Regions from separate parts of the Homo sapiens genome. Here all the other regions are linked to region 1. Evidence: fine-mapped expression QTL. A gene starts in region 1. Each other region holds a variant in brackets. All regions are shown on one strand. Distances are from middle to middle.

Region 1 (5,716 bases):
ACCTATTGTAACCAGGATGATAACTGGATGAGTCTAATCCCTGAGTTCTTACCCACATTGCTCCCCAGGCTCTGAAGGAATCTCATCCTTCTCATTCCGTGTATCATTTTACACCCCCCCTCCCTCCTAGGAAAATATACAAGGAAAGGAGTGAGAGGGGCCGAGGGTCACTCACATTTTACAGTCAGCTTGAGGGGGTCGCTCCTGTTGGAGCTGACTGGGTTGGAGACCTCACACTGATACTCCCCAGCGTCCTCCTGCCTGATGGGGTCTATGGTGAGCACATGGTTAAACCAGGACAGCTTCATCCTCTTCGTGACCTGCAGACGCTGGTTGTTGAAAATCCACTGGAAAGAGGTTCCAGTGTTATTTGTGTGGCAGGTCAGGACCACGGAGCCCTTCTCTGTGACTGTGGTGCTGCTGGCTTGGATGGAGGGCTGAGCCACTGACTCTGTGGATAGAGTGACCAACAGAAAGTGTCTTGGGGCCATGCTGCATCCTCAGAGATCTCAGAGTCAAATTTAGAACATTCTCCTGTGAATAAAGGAGAAAGATGAAGGACAGGGAGGAGCAGAGAGAACCAGAGACACCCATAGCAGCGAGCAGTAGGGACTACAGTGACCTCAGAGACCCCAGGGACCAGGAGGACCCAGCTGCCTCAGACCAGGACCAGGGAGCCCTGAAAACCCTCCCACAGATGAGCGGCCCCAGAGTCACATGAGATGCAATACCTGGGGTGGCTTTAGGAGCAGGCAGTCAGAGAAATGGAACATGGGTCTCAGCCCCTAAGGGACAAGGAAGAGGTGTGGCCAGCTCCTCCTAGGATCCTACATCCAGGACCCAGTCTGTAAAGAGGTTATGATTATTCCTTTCTTTTTTCATTAATTCCCTCCCTCCTTCATCAGAGAACTACTGAGTGTGTGTCTCAGTTGGGCCTTGTGCAGGTACAGGGTGTAGTGGGAAGAGAAAGCTGAGTCCTTTCCTTCATCCTCCCATGGGAGTGACATCAACAAATCAAGAAATTCATGATTTCACGTCCAGTGAGGGAAGGAATGTGGATCTGATGGGAGAGGCTTGGACAATCCTGGCATTGAGTCTGATAGTTGAGACAGGTGATTTCGTTCTAAGTAAAAACTGACTAATTCTCCATTTGCCCGTCATTCCTCAGACCAGAATCTCCCTCTCTGAGCTGAGGATGCCCAAGAAGAAAGGAGCTGAACCAACATCTGGTCCTGGGGTCCACAGATGCCCCACGGTGGTGGCCACGACCAGATTCTGGGCTGCAGACACACGGTGGTGTGACGTTGAGCACTGACAGCCTGTGTGATGCTGATGCAATTTCTCTTTAATAAAATGGGGTACATGTCAATGGTCCCTGGCTTGCCATCCTCTCTGTAAATTAACATTAAAATATTTACAATTACCTGACCTAAAGCTTGGCACAGAATAGCTCCAAATAAACATCATCTATTATTATTTTACTCCAAAAAAAAAAAAAAAGAGTTCTCTGGGCCTGATTCCTGGTGGAGAAGGAGCGGTCCAGAGTGTCTTTTCTCTGCTTTCCCTCCTCCTGAGGACAGTGCACTTCCCGGGACATCTTTTAAGTTTCCCATCCAGTTTAATGGCCTGGGAAGTTTGTTTGTCTGTCCTCTCCACTCTGACTCTCAGGTGAAAGATGAGGCTCTGCCCTTGCCCAGATGGGGCTCTGGGGGCTGAGCCCTGCCTGGTGACCAGCTCTAGGAACCACGGCCCTGGGACAGCTGGTAAATCCTTGCTCACAATCAGCCCTGCCCAGGAAGCCACAACCCAGCCCTGGCACAGGCTCCCCAGGGTCATCTGGAGTCAGGATCTTGGGACAGGGGCCTGGGGCAGGGGCTTCAAGGGCTGAGCTTCTCTCAGAGGATCCTCAGGCCAGGCCCTGACTGAGTCCTATAAGATCTTTCTCAGGTCATGTCTATGAGGAGGAGGCCAAGGGGGGTTGGACTGAGACTGATTTTCCCCCGCTGCATCTCCCGCATCAGACTATCCTTCTTGCTGTAGGGAATTTCCACGGAGTCCGGATAAGGGAAAGGAATTCTGATCTGTTATAGTTTGTCTCCCCTGGGTGTGTCCTGCACTAAATGCCCAAACCCCAACATGGGACGTAATGCAGAGGGGGATGCAGGCACAGCCCAGGCCTGACAATCCTGCGTATGTGAAGCAGAACTGACCCCCAACACCCAGAGGCACGGAGGAATCACTCACCGTATACACGGAGATGGTGAGATGCCTGTTCAATCTGAGAATTTCTGTATGTGACTTGTAGGTTGTAGTATCCCGTGTCCTCTAGGGTGACGTTCTGGAAATGCAGATCTCCACTGGGTGATATTGTCTCTCGACCGCTGTATGCAGGCCCTGGAGTCCTAACGTGAGTGTCTATTACATATGCTGCGATTAGCTGGTTGGGCTCCACCGTTTTCCCTTTGTACCAGCCATAGCTGTAAAGATTCTCGGGCAGATAAACCACAGAGAGATGAACATTCTCCCCTTCAGCAACTTCAAAGGGCGCTGATGCAATAAAGAGCCAGGCAGTGGTGGGTGCGTTCCAGAAAGTTAAAAGTGAGGCTAGGAAAGGGAGAGAATATCAGTCAATATTTGACCTATGCATTGGCATGGAAAGACGGGGTCCTGGGTGCAGGTCTCTTCACCCCTCAGCCTTAGAGGGTGTGTGTGTGTGTGTGTGTCCTACTGGGTCAAAGTCAGCAGCATGACCCTCATTCCTTCAGTACCTCTGACCTTGGCATTTCCTTGTGTGAACCCTCTTTCCCAGGGGTCTGCATGGTTCCCTCCCCACTGCCTTCAGTTCCTACTCACACAAGGGAATCCCTGGGAGACTTCTTTCGTGAAGCCTCCTCTAGAGACCCTGGGTCTTCCCTTTCTGACCTTTCCCAGCTCTGTTCCCTCCAGGGCTCTTGTCAGCACCTGACCTCACATTCTAGATCTCTTTGGGTGTCTGTCTTCCCCCCCATGAGATTGTGAGCTCTGTGAGGGCATGGACTTGAGTGATGTTAGTTGCACCCCAGTGCCTGGGACAGGCTGCAGACTCCTGTGGATGAGTTCATGAGCGTTCCCAGGGCCTTCCATATCCTGGGGTTTATTTGCTAATGTCTGAGGTTGGCAGATGAAGACAGAGTTTCATGCCCTGGTGGTGTTTTTATTTAAATTGTCACTGTGATATAGTTTTACTATCATTTTCAAAGTGTAGTGGCCACTGACAATGAACTTGAAAACATGGACCAACTGAGATTGTTTTGCCCCTTGGCAATTCCAGTTCACTTAGATTTTTTGGTTCTCCTTAGACGCTCTCTCCCCTGAGTCTCTAACAAAAGCCCTCTGTCTCCTCTCAGAGCCCCATCCTCCCCAGGAGACCCCAGCCAGTCTCTGTGCTCCCTCCTCCCACCCACTCCCAGGGAGTCCTCCCCTCACCTGTGAGCAAGAGCCCCTGCCAGGGGATGCATTCTCTGTGGGGACAAGCTGAGGGGGGCCCCATGGTCTCTGCTGCCTGCTCTGTCCTCCTCTGTGGAGAGGAGCTTGGGCTCCAGGAACGCTCTAGACAGGGTTACTGTGACTGTTGTCTCTGCTGTCCTTCCTTCCTCTATGCTGAGCTTCCTCTCAGGCAGGAGCACTTCCCGTTTATGGGCAAGGGCGGGGCTCTGCCTACAATGTCTCTCTGTCCCCTCCCCTCTCAGTCCTGCCTCCCTTGTCCCTCCTTTCTCCTTCCTTTTTGCCTATATTTGGTTCCCTAGGCAAAACTTTGAGAAGCAACGCTGATGGGGTCCTCATAACAGGACGACCCACTCTCCCCAGTACTGACCTCTGCTGTGTTCTGGCCTTGGTTCTGTCACAGCCGGTAGATTATTTCCCTTTGTGACACACAAAACCAGCTGGGCCCTGGGTCTCCTCATGCTCTCCAGTGCTCCAGGAAGGCAGAATGATGCCCAGCAGGAAAGTGACAGAGGTGGCTCTGGGGGCTAGAAAGGGGCTCACTGGGTGATGGCTGGGAAGGACCCACCCGCTATCTTCAGTGTCACCAGCCTGGCCTCTGACCCAGGGACAGAGACCCAGGCCTGGAGGTCTCGGGAGGATCCCCAGCTCCTAGGTGTGGAGGGAGGTGTCCTGTGTGTCCTGGGAAGAGAGGACTTTGATGGAAGGAGGTGGGAGGCTCTGGGTTCTGCTGTCCTTGGTGAAGGTTTCAGGGGGACCCTCTCCGTGTCTGGGGTCTGTGCCCCCAGCTTAACTCTCATTCTCTTTGCAAATACATATATTTTGTGGATCTGCAGTTGCCTGAACTGTCTCATGTCCCTAAATCTTTGTATCCCTTTTTACAGAAGGTCAGGAAGGGTGTGTACATGAGTATGAGGACTATCTGATCAGGGCGAGTGTTTGTTTCCCAAAGATCTCTTTAGATATGGTATAATACATAAGATAAATGTACTGAATTAGCAATTTTAAGTGTAGAATTAAATGATACTAATTCTATTCACAATGTTGTACAACCATCACCATAATTTTTTACCAGAAAATCTTCATTATACCAAATGGAAACTTCATACTTTTAATCAATAACTCCCCACTTCCCCCTGCCCCACCCACTGGTAGCCTCTGATACTATCAATCTCTGTGAATTTGCCTAGTTTACATGTCTCATATAATAAGGAATTATATACGTGTATTATTTTTTTCTGGATTATTTCTCTTAGGGTAACACTTTTAAGATTCATCCACGTCGTAGCATATATTACAGCTTCTTTCCTATTTATGGCTGAGTAATATCCCAATATATGTTTATACCTCAATTTTAATTCATTCATCTCTTAATGGACATGTGGGTGGTTTCCACATTTTTGCTATTGTGAAAACCGCTGCAATGAACTTACACTTGGAAGTATCTGTTTGGGTTTCTGTGTTCATTTCTTTGGGGGTACATATAGGAGTATAAATATGGGGTCATGTGGTAGTTCTATGTTTAAGTTTTTGAGAAACAGCCAAACTGTTTTCCAGTTTGCTGTGCTATTTTATATTCCCATCAGCAATATACGAGGGTTCCATTTTCTCTACATTCTTGTAAACACTTACTATTTAATATTTTTTAAAACTTATAGCCATTCTAGTAGGTGTGAAGTGATAGCTCATTGCAGTTTTGATTTTCATTTCCCTGGTGGCTGATGAAGTTGAGCATTTTTTCATGTATTTGCTGACAATTTTAATATTTTTTAGAGAACTATTTATTCAAATCATTTGCTGTTTAAAAAAAATGGGTTATCTTTTTATTATTCAGTTGTAATAGTTCTTTATATATTTTAGATACAAGTCCCTTATGGGGTACATGATTTGCAAAATTTTTCTCATATTCTGTGTCTTCTCACTTTCTTCATGGTGTTCTTTGAAGCACAAACATTTTTAACTTTGATGAAGTTCACTTATCTATTTTTAATTTTGTTACTTATGCTCTTGATGTCATATTGAAGAAACCATTGCCCAATCCAAGATCATTAAGTTTTACTCCTATATGTTCTTCTAATGGTTTGATAAGTTTTGCTATTCCATTTAGGTTTTTGAAACATTTTGAGTTAACTTTTGTATGGGCTGTGAGGTAGGGGTCTAACTACACTATCTCGCATGTGGTTATCCAGTTGTTCCAGCACAATATGAAGAGGCTACCATTCTTTCCCCATTG
Region 2 (5,716 bases), 29 kb after region 1:
TTATTCACGCATCCACAAACTGGGTTCTTATATTTTGTACGTGATTTTTTCCATTGAGGAGAGATATCTGTGCATATTCATGCTGCTCATATTTCATCCACAAACTCGGTTCATATTTCATCCACAAACATAATTTTTTCCGTTGAGAAGAGATACTTGTACATATTTATGCTGTTCAAATTCACATTTCATCATTCTTTTACAAGAAATAGATAATGTATTTTAAGGTTTTCCAGTGGTATTACAGATATTTTACTGGGTGTATAGATAGAAATTAAACCAAACTTCTTTGTTCTGGCCGCCAGTCATGCATCCTGTTTTCAACATAGTTCACATACAACTGGTTGTGTAAAAATGAAATTATTTTGTTTAGTACAATCATCAACAGTTGGTTGATTAGATTTTTAATTATCAAGTTAATCATTGTCATTATGCTTCTCATCGCACTCGTCATTAATTGCTGTGGGAGGAAATTTGTTATGTTCCCTATGAGAGGGTGTATCACAAATTCAAATAAGAATTCAACGACAATGGACTGTATAAAGGAAATAAGCAAGTCCATGGAAAACATATTTTTTTCCGGAAAGGATTAAAATATTTTTAAAAAGGAATTAAAAAAAAATTGGGCACGGTGGCAAATGCCTAGAGTCCCAGCTGCTCAGGAGATGGAGACAGAAGGATTGCTTGAGCCCAGGAATAAGTTGGAGGCTGTAGTGAACAGTGATTCCACCACTGTACTCCAGCCAGGGCAATAGAGGGAAACCCTCTTTCTAAAAAGACAAAAAGAAACAAAACAAAACAAAAAAACACCACATCAAAAAACCCAACAACAAAATGAAAAACCAAATAACAGCAATACAATTGGAGCTATTCGATCCAAAGAAGTAAATGAAACATAAAGCAAATAAAAGAGAAAAGCTAATACCTGTGTCCTGCAGGACTCAGTCCAAGTTCTGCTCTGACTCCCTCCTGGTGAGCCACCCCTTAAAAAGTCACTTGGGGCGGGGTTACTTTGACAGACAGTCTTCTGTCAAAGAGGGAGGCGGTAAATAGCACTTTTTTTTTTTTAATTTAACGCCTTTCCAACAAATTAGCGGCTATGTTGTCTAAGAGTGCAAATGTCAGAGGTGGGTACAGGCAGCAAGACCCTCCCCACAGGGGCAGCAGAAGGAGGAATGACTAAGGGAACAAGACTTTAGTGTGCTCAACTACACAGGACAGGAAACAGATGCTTTTTACAAAAGCTGGTGGACTTGAAGGCAGAATATTTTCAAGTTCCTGTAACTGCGAACTATGACCTGTAGCCTGTGAGAGTGACTTTCTGTGGCAAAGGAGCTTTTGTGAATGTGAGGAAGTTAATTATCTTAACAGTGGGAGGTTCTCCCGGCTTATCTAGCTAGACCCTCGTGAAATCCCAAGTGTCCTTAGGAAGGGGAAGCAGAGAGAGATTTGAGTCCAGAAGAGGAAGAAGGTGATGTGAGGCCCAGTAGGGGAACAAAGGGCGATGGCATGTAAACACTTAGCCCCCAGAAGTGGGAGAGGGCTGGGGTTCATCACACCAGAATCCCTAACAATCAGCCTTATTTTAATTACCCTTGAAATGGAAGGAGGCCTTAGAGAGCCAGAGGCTTGGAGGGGCACCCTCTGCTGCATACACAGATCCCAACTGCTGTGGGCTCCAAATAATTGCACCAGGGAAATCACAAATTATCAAAAATAAAGGATGTAAAGCTTTTAAAAAATATTAAAAGCCCAACAAATAAAAAAAGTTCTAAATCTATAAAATTGACCTCAGTCTGTATATTTAGATGAGTCATGTGTATATAGCGTTTCACTTCAAAATATATGATAAATCTCTCATTCATTGGCTTAAAAATAAACACTTCAATCAAGTCTTTATCAGAAAAATTGAAACGTTAACTCAATTGCCTTTTAGTTCATGTGACTTTACAAAACTTAAAACAATAAAGTCAGTTTTAAAAATTATTAGTAAAGTAAAAGAAAAATATCTTCACAATGTAGACATTTTGTCCACATGAGACATGTGAAATATTGCCATTACTAAATATTTGCAGGTCAAAAACTGTTTCCAAAACATTTTAAATAATCATCTGGCCTGTCTGTTTTAGAGCATTCAATTCTAGCTGAGGTCTGGGGACATGTGAAAGGAGCCACGGCCCGACTCCGTGCTGGGAAGAGTCAGACATTTTCCACAGCTCTGTCCTTTGCTGTGGGCTCTGCAACTCCTACCAATTAAAATTGCTTACGTTTTTGTTTTATTTTTACTAAAGAGGGGTTCCTAAAAGCTAACATTATACTGAGTATATGTAACTAAAACTACTAAGAAAACAATTTCACAATTATACAAATGTGCCAAGTAAATGAAAAAATAAACTGTATTTTAATAAAGGTTATAAAAAGAAAAACATATAGTGGTGTGAGGACTGTCTCAGGTCTTCACTGAGCAAGGGATCATGACATTCTATGGCGGACAGCTGACCTTGGCTTTCTGCTCCTCTTGATTATGTCTACTAAGTGACATACTTACTCTTTTTCCACCTGTCTTGCCTCTAAGGGTAACAGGTTTTATGAGATCCCTCCTAGTGCTTTGCAGGTCAGCCTCCCTTTGCTGCATTCCAATTTTACTGCCTATACCCTCCAGCTGGCTTTTGATGACAAAAGTCCTGGTCCCAGCCATTCTCAGATTCTGTCATCCCCGTGGGCACTATGGAGCTCAGCACTATGGGAGGTTCCCCAAAAATCTCGTTTTCTATGAGGAATGGCCACCACCTGCATCTCAGTGATGCTAGTGACCCCTTTCCTACTCCTGTGCTCACTGGTCCTCATGAAGATCCTGGTTGGTCTGTAGCCCCCTATTTTTCCTATTAAAGAGAAATTACAGTAAGACCAATTTGTGTGCAAAATCAATTTTAGGCTTATTACACTTGGCCTGATAATTTGCATAAAATGCAGCAAGAATTCATCGGCCATATAGGCTACTTTTGAGTTAATTTTCCTGGGTTTTTACCTAAAAATATACTATTTTGGTTAGAGTCTTGTGAAAATAACCAATGTGTTCAATTGTTTTATTTTAAAAGGCTCTTACTGAACACTATAAATATGTATAAGTTGAATATACAAACTATATTGTCATAAAATCACAACCCAA[A/G]ATGTGGAGAACGCAGAGGGAAAGGTAAATTTGCTCGCAAAAACATACTTCACCCAAATAACTGGAAAAAAAAAAAGACTTTCATGACCCTTCTTTAACCAGAGCAGCAGCTTTCAAACAAGATGTTTGCCTTGGAAATGCCATTCACAAGCCAAACGGCCCTTGAGAGCTGTCTGTCAGGCACTGTAGAATCTAGCAGCTCCTCACAGAGTTAGAAATAGTTTCAGGAAAGAGATTCCCTGCTTTTAGTAACTGCACTTTATATTCCCAGATAGCGAGATTGTATGTAAACCATTTTTATCTTATTCTGGAACTCTTTTGGGTACTTTTTTTTTTTTTTTAAATGATGGAGTCTGGCTCTGTTGCTCAGGCTGGGGTGTAGTGGTGCGATTTCAGGGTATGAGAAAATGCAGCTGGACCTGGCTCTTTCCAGGAAGACCCTCACAGCCAAGGAGTCCAAAGCCTGGGGTTTTCATCTAATTCCAGTGTGACTGGGGTAGGAGCAGCTTTGGTGCTGGGTGTGTGTGTGTGTGTGTGTGTGTGTGTGTCTATGCCTGTGTCTGTTTAGGGTGTTAGGCTCGTGGTTGTCTAGATACAAATGTCCCAGGGCTCAGGAGCCCCAGGGTTATGTCAGGGGCACCAGATGAAGGTGTCAACAGAAGTTAGGGCACAAGGGACAAAGGTGAGAGCAAGGTTAGATTCATTTAGGTGCAAGAAATCATAGAGGGAGGAGGGAGAGGAAGGCCTCCTGCTACCACCGAGGAAGAAGCGCAGCTTAAGGCAGAAAGCCTGTCCGGAGAGGAAGTGAGTTTGAGGGCAGGGCTCTCTGGGTAAAGTACGGTCTGGGACACCAGCCTGGGGGAAGGGTACAGAATGCAGAGTGGCCTGGCGTGGGGACTAAGAACAGAGGAGAGCAGCTTTCACTGGGAGGGTCAGTGTTTTCAGTGTCCAGCACTGAGCAAGGTGAGATTTGGGCAGCTTGCTGTGAAATAAGGTCAGGCTCTGGCATTGTCCCCATTGCGTGTGTGTGTGAGGGGCACTTTGGGAGAGTGAACTCTCCACCTCCATCCTCTCATACGTCCTTCAACCGAGCTTGCCAGTTACCCTGATTCCAAGGAGATCTATTTATTGTTGACAATACTGGATCCTAGCAGAGGCTGGGTAGGAGCCTGGGCACAAGCAAGTGGAGGAGGGGGCCTGGGCCTGAAAGACCTGGGAGGTTTGAGAGAGGACACAGCCCACAGAATGGAGCAGATGGGGTAGAGTCGGCAAGCATTCAGGGCTCCTAGTAAGTTGGACAATGGAGACCCTGAAAGATCCAGTAAAACGGGGAGAACAAACAGGTCCCCAACTCACATCCTTGCAGTGCCTGGAGCTTCAGACTCCAGACAGGTGGGGAAGGAAAATTGAGGGATGTGAACATGTTGGAGAATGTCGTGCCCTGAAGAATGAAGAAAAGGGGGGTGAGGAATGAGAGCAGGAACGGCTTCCAGTGCCTGGTGCCCAGGAGAACTCAGAAAATGGGTGTGGTGGAGAGGAATCGAGGAACCGGAAGTGGTGGAAGTGTGCAGGGCCCCTCCGAGATCACTGTGACTGCCAGGCGTCCTCCCTGGCTGGAGAGCTTCACTGTCCTCCTTCCCAGCCAAAATGTGTCCCTTGAAAGCTTCCTCCCCAATGGACTGGTTCTGGGTCCTATATATTTGAAGGGGTGGCCTGCCTCTCCACACCTGTGGGTATTTCTAGTTGGGTGGGAGGAGAGACAGAGAAAAGAAATAAGACACAGAGACAAAGTATAAAGAAACAACAGTGGGTCCAGGGGACCAGCACTCAGCACACCAAGGGCCTGCACCGGCACCGGCCTCTGAGTTTCCTCAGTTTTTATTGATTATTATTTTCATTATTTCAGCAAAAAGGAATGTAGTAGGAGAGCAGGGTGATAATAAGGAGAAGGTCAATGAAAAACATGTGAGCAAAAGAATCTATATCATAATTAAGTTCAAGGGAAAGTACTATGCCTGGACGTGCACTCAGGCCAGATTTATGTTTCTCTCCACCCAAACATCTCAGTGGAGTAAAGAATAACAAGGCAGTATTACTGCAAACATGTCTCACCTCCCGCCACAGGGCAGCTTTTCTCCTATCTCAGAGTTGAACAAATGTACAATTGGGTTTTACACCGAGACATTCAGTTCTGAGGGGCAAGCAGGAGACAGTGGCCTTCCTCCATCTCGACTGCAAGAGGCTTTCCTCTTTTACTAATCCACCTCAGCACAGACCCTTTATGGGTGTTGGGCTGGGGGACAGTCAGGTCCTTCTCATCCCATGAGGCCATATTTCAGACTATCACATGGGGAGAAACCTTGGACAATACCCCGCTTTCAAGGGCAGAGGTCCCTGCGGCTTTCCACAGTGTATTGTGCCCCTGGTTTATTGAGACTAGAGAATGGCAATGACCTTTACCAAGTATACTGCTTGTAAATATTTTGTTAACAAGGCACATCCTGCACAGCCCTAGGTCCCTTAAACCTTGATTTCATACAACACATG
Region 3 (5,716 bases), 51 kb before region 1:
CTTCTGAAAATCATCCCAGAACACAAAAAAATAGACATTCTAAATGACGGGCACAAAATGGCTAATTAACAGCCACTAGCGTGGTTGCCACCATCTAAAACACTGGTACAAATGCCTGACATTCTCTGGCAGGATTTGTAAAATTTTCTTCACTTTCAAGAGATTAATAAGAAATGGAATGGGGCTCTCAAGCATTAAGGCATGCCAGGTTTTCTGGGGCTCCAGCTGGCTACATTTTATGGTTCTTTCTTGTGCACATTTTAAAGTTTATGAGCAAAATTACATCAAGGAAAATTCAGTACTCAATGATCATCATTCAACCTGTTTTAAAAAGCCCTGCATCTATAGGGTGGAAATGTAGAGTCTTCTAAATTCTCTATTTTTTTTTCTCTACCTACTTTGAATCTGCTGACTTTTCTACTGGTGTTGAGATAAAACTCACTGCTTATGGCATTCTAGCCCAGAGTTTTAAAAAAGAAATCTTGAAGGGCTTTAAAATTAATGGCTTTACAAATTAAACAACTCCATGATAAGAAACAACTTAGACACCTTTAGGAAATGTAAATTTAAGTTTGTCTAACTAATAATTGCTTATAATGGAGCACAATTAAAAATCAATAATTAAAAAAATACATGGTTATAAAAGTTAGGCTCTCAGATCATACAGGTCAAAATCTTGAACTCAGAGCAATAATTTAAGGTGTCTCTGTCCGACATAAACTTTTTTCTTCTTTTGCCATGCAGAGGCAAAAAAGAAAAAGCCAGGAAAAAAAGCTAAAATCCTTCCTCATCCACATTTGTTAATCAAGCAAACCACATCACCACCACCCGCCCCCCTCCAACCCACACAAAAAATCTAGTTTAAGGCTAGTTGGAGATTTTTTTTTCTTATACAATTCAGCCAGTTCTAGCTAAAGTGTAAGCAATTGAAAATTTAATCCTAAACTCATGTGAAACAGAAAAAAAAAAGATGCTGAAACTGTAGAGGTTTCATTTGTTTATTTGTTTATAAGTTACACTGCCATTAGAAACTGCTTTACCCAAAATATTTCCCCCAGCCTTCATTATATTACCTATAGGGGCAAATAAAGTTTATCCATGTTAACGATTCCAATTTGTCAGAAATACAATTGGATCCAGTTGACTTTAATCAACTAGTGAGTTTGTATTACTATCTCATCACTAAAATTCTAAAATGAAAGCTGTAAGATTTTTATTTGTTTGTGGATATGTGTTTAGGTGTGTTTTTGCATATGTACATGTATTATGGTCTATATTGTGTCTACATGACAAAATCCACCTTAGTTGGCCAGAAACGCCTTAATAAACTCTATTTGCATTTCCTTAGAGAAATGAGCATAAGAACATGGCTTTTACCCTAGTAGCATCGGGAGGGAATTCAGGGTCTTTCTAACAGTGAGGGGCAAACCCAATTCATTCCCTGACATCATTCACTGACATTCCCTCCAGGCTCTAACATATGTCTTTCTCACAAACACACCAAAACTGACACAAACTCCGGATATTCGATCCCAGGTGGATCTTCCACCAGGGCAGAATGACCACAAGAAAGTCAGGGAGTGATTCCCCAGCCTCGAGATCCCCAGTATTTGGGACATCTGCCTATGGTCCCTGCAGACATTTCACCAGGGGATCCAGGGGAACTTCTCCTGCAGGAGGGGACAGGATAACCCAGGATCTGCCTTTGTTTCCATCTCAGAGGGACTGAGGGTCACGGGGCCTCCCCTGCTCTAATACAGGAACCAGGTATCCCTTGCAGCCTGCAGGTAGGAGCTGCCCCAGCTCCTGGGCCCTGTGGAGAGGCCTGGGGCAGGTGACAGACAGGGACACAGATGACCTGGAGGCGGAACTCCCAGTGTTGTGATGGAGGAACACAGAACACACCGAGGACCACCTCCCAGGCCAGTGCCCTCTCTCTAAACCCCCAGAGACACCTCCCTGGGCCCTTCTTTTGAAACCTTGGGGACGGATGGCTCTTTCTGAGGCAGCCCATCCGCCTGCAGGACAGTTCTCCCAAATCAGGACCAGGAGTGCTCTGGACAACTCTCGTCCTCTCCCTGAGCTCATCCTGCACTGCATGGAGTTGGACATCCTGGGGACCCACAGTGAACAGGACCAAGGATGACCTGACCCTGCAGTCTGGAGGTCAGAGCCCACCTCTGCCCAGGGGCCAGGGCCAACTCATACCACGTGGACCCTGGTCAGCATCCCTGGGGAAGCCCCTGACTTTTACCACAGGGTTCCTCTTGCTCTCCAGGGGCAACATTGCACGCAGACAACACAGGAAATGGATTCCCCTGGACAGGAATCTGGCTTTGCTAAGGAGGTGGAGGTGAAGCCTGGTTTCCATACTTTGCTCCAGCAGGCCCTTCCAGTCCCTCCCATGTGCCTGCTCTGTCTCTCCTGATCCTTCCTGGAGCCTCTGAGGATCCTGCTCTGCCAGGATTCTCTGCTCAGTTCTCCACTTTCTCCTGGTATCATGCATGGGGAAGGTACAGTGACAACAGGACAATCACCTTCACAGAGGACAGAGGCCACCCGGGATGGTAAGGGAGAACATGCACAGGCCCTAAGCCACAGCTCAGCCAACAGAAACGGAGAGGGAGGATCTCCCTGAATCCCTCCTCAAGGACAGCAGAACCCAGAGCCACCCACCTCCCTCCACCACAGTCCTCTCTTCCCAGGACATGCAGGACACCTCCCTCCACATCCAGGAGCTGGGGATCCTCCTGAGACCCCCAGGCCTGGATCTCTGTCCCTGGGTCAGAGGCAAGGCTGGTGACACTGGAGAGAGAGGACTGGTCCCCCCCGTAGTCGCCCCCCATTTTCTATCCCACAGAGCCACCTCTGTCACCTTCCTGCTGGGTATCATCTCACACTCCCTGAGTATTGGGGAGCATGAGGAGACCTGGGGGCCCAGCTGGGTCTCTGTGTCACAAAAGGAAACAGTTCCCCAAGTTTGGGAGACCCCAGAGTACCTCTGTTTGTGGTGACATTCCCAAAGGGTCAGTGCAGGGGTGACAAGTCACCCTCTCTGGGGACAGGGGACTCCACCAACCCTGCTTCTCAAAGTGTGGTTAGGAAACTGTAATGTACACAGAAGAGAAAGGGGAAGGAGGGACAAAAAAGGCAGAAATGAGAGGGGAGGGGCAGAGGGGTGACCTGGGAAGAGCCCCGCCTCTGCCCCTGGCCCTGGGAAGTGCTTCTGCCCGGGAGGAGGCTCAGCACAGAAGGAGGAAGGTCAGCAGCCCCGACAGCCGACAGTCACAGCAGCTCTGACAAGAGCGTTCCTGGAGCCCAGCTCCTCTCCACAGAGGACAAGCAGGCAGCAGAGACCATGGGCCCCCCCTCAGCCGCTCCCCGTGGAGGGCACAGGCCCTGGCAGGGGCTCCTGATCACAG[G/C]TGAGGGGAGGACTCTCTGGGAGTGGTGGGAAGAGGGAGCACAGAGACTGACTGGGGTCTCTTGGGTAGGAGGGGATAGAGGGCTTCTGGCTGGGGTCTCCTGGGGCTCTGAGAGGGGACTGAGGGCCTCTGTTGGAGGCTGGATAAGGGAGAGAACATCAGAGAGGGGCAGGGGTCACAACAGGAAAATCTCAGTGAACTGGAATTGGTAAAAGGCAGGAAAATCTCAAGTGTTCTCTCGTCCTGGTTAATCATCACTGGCCACTACATTTTGAAAAATGATAATAACTATACCAGATGACACTTCAAATAAAAACATAACCAGGGCATAAAACACTGCTCTTAGCCAACAACCTCAGACACTGGGAAATAAACCTCAGGACTTGGAGGCCCTGAGAATGCTCATGAACTCATCTACAGGAGTCTGCAGCCTGTGCCAGGCACTGGGGTGCAACCAAGATCACACAAGTCCCCGCCCTCACAGAGCTCACGCTCTCATGGGGAGGAAGACAAACACCTAAAGAGATCTAGAATGTGAGGTCAGGTGCTGACAAGAGCCCTGGAGGGAACAGAGCTGGGAAAGGTCAGAAAGGGAAGACCCAGGGTCTCTAGAGGAGGTGTCAGGGGAGGGGTCTCCCAAAAACACCCTGATGTGAGCAGGATCTGAGGGCAGTGGGGAGGGAGCCGTGCAGACCCCTGGGGAAGAAGATTCCACCAGGGAAATGCCAAGGTCCAAGCTGTTGAAGGAATGGGGGTCATGCTGCTGACCCAGGGACACACACACACACACACACACACACACACACACACACACACACACACACACACACACACACTCCAAGGCTGAGGGATGAGGAGACCTGCTGAGGACCCAGGGCCTTATCTTTCCATCCCACTCCATAGGTCCCAGTATTGACTGATGCTGTCTTCACCTCCTAGCCTCACTTTTAACCTTCTGGCACCCGCCCACCACTGTCCAGTTCACTATTGAAGCCCTGCCGTCCAGTGCTGCAGAGGGAAAGGATGTTCTTCTACTGGCCTGCAATATTTCAGAAACTATTCAAGCCTATTATTGGCACAAGGGGAAAACGGCAGAAGGGAGCCCTCTCATTGCTGGTTATATAACAGACATTCAAGCAAATATCCCAGGGGCCGCATACAGTGGTCGAGAGACAGTATACCCCAATGGATCCCTGCTGTTCCAAAACATCACCCTGGAGGACGCAGGATCCTACACCCTACGAACCATAAATGCCAGTTACGACTCTGACCAAGCAACTGGCCAGCTCCACGTACACCGTGAGTGATTCCCCCATACCTCTGGGTGCTGGCGGTCAGTTCTGCTTCACACACATGAGATTGTCAGGCCTGGGCTGTGCCTGCATCCCCCTCTGCATTTTGTCCCGTGTTGAGATTTGGGCATTTAGTGCAGGACACACACATGGTAGGTAAACTTCAACAGATCAGAATTCCTTTCCTGCATCCAGGCCCTGCAGACACTGATGGCGGGGGCGGGGGGGCCTCAGCAGGGGGAGGTCAGTCTCAGCCAAGCACCCCATGCCCTCCCCATGAACCTGACCCTGAGAAAGACCCTGGAGAACTGGGTCAGGGCCTGGCCTGAGGGCGTCCTGGGAACCTCACAAAAGCCCAGCCTCAGGACTCCTGACTCCGTGTGACCCCGGGAAGCCTGTGTCAGGGCTGGGGTGTGGTCTCCTGGGCAGGGCTTACTGGGAGCAAGGATTTACCAGATGTCTGCGGGCTGTGGTTCCTGAAGCTTCTCATCAGTGAGGGCTCAGCTCCCAGAGTCTCATCTAGACAAGGACAGAGCCTACCACTTTCCCTGGGACTCAGCCTGGAGAGGGCAGGGGGACAGGATTACTAGGGCATTGGCCCCCTGAATGAGGAGCTTAAGAGATGCCCTTGGGCAGTCAGTGGCCCAGGGGTAGGAACAGAGGGGAGAAAATGTTCCTGGCAGCTTCTTGTCCACCGGGGATCATGCCCAGGGGTGCTCTCCCATGGAGGCAAATAACAGATGCTGTTGATGTGAACACCTCCTCTGTGCCAAGCTTCATGTCAGATCCTGTGAATAATTTAAAGTTCATTCACAGACAAAGTGGCAAGCCTCAGACCATTTTCCATTTACATATTGTATGGAGGGGAAACTGAGGCACAGAGAGATACAGACACCGGCCACGGTGGGCAGATCGCAGCTGGCAGAGTCACATGAGGGCTGTCTGCAGCTGCTGCCACGTCCTCTCCTTCATCCCTGGTGCCTTACTAGGTGTCTGTGGACC

What was found. PIP is the estimated chance that this variant, and not a neighbour inherited with it, causes the effect. A credible set is the group of variants that fine-mapping cannot tell apart.
Region 2: its variant is the best candidate, but not a certain one, in a credible set for the expression of CEACAM21 in whole blood (GTEx, PIP 0.64).
Region 3: its variant is the best candidate, but not a certain one, in a credible set for the expression of CEACAM21 in whole blood (TOPMed, PIP 0.74).

What each region holds. Positions count from the first base shown.
Region 1 is chr19:41,574,088-41,579,803 of GRCh38, reverse strand. CEACAM21 (CEA cell adhesion molecule 21) reads right to left here and starts at 3,638. Exons shown (of 7, transcript NM_001098506.4): 1 at 3,466-3,638; 2 at 2,245-2,604; 3 at 176-451. The coding sequence starts at 3,529.
Region 2 is chr19:41,544,762-41,550,477 of GRCh38, reverse strand. It overlaps a transcript of CEACAM21 not described here. Among named protein-coding and RNA genes, the nearest start is that of LINC01480, 12 kb to the right of the region's middle. The variant A/G (reference allele first, on the strand shown) is at 3,170.
Region 3 is chr19:41,624,606-41,630,321 of GRCh38, reverse strand. It overlaps CEACAM4 (CEA cell adhesion molecule 4), which reads left to right and starts at 3,248. Exons shown (of 7, transcript NM_001817.4): 1 at 3,248-3,422; 2 at 4,362-4,721. The coding sequence starts at 3,359. The variant G/C (reference allele first, on the strand shown) is at 3,423.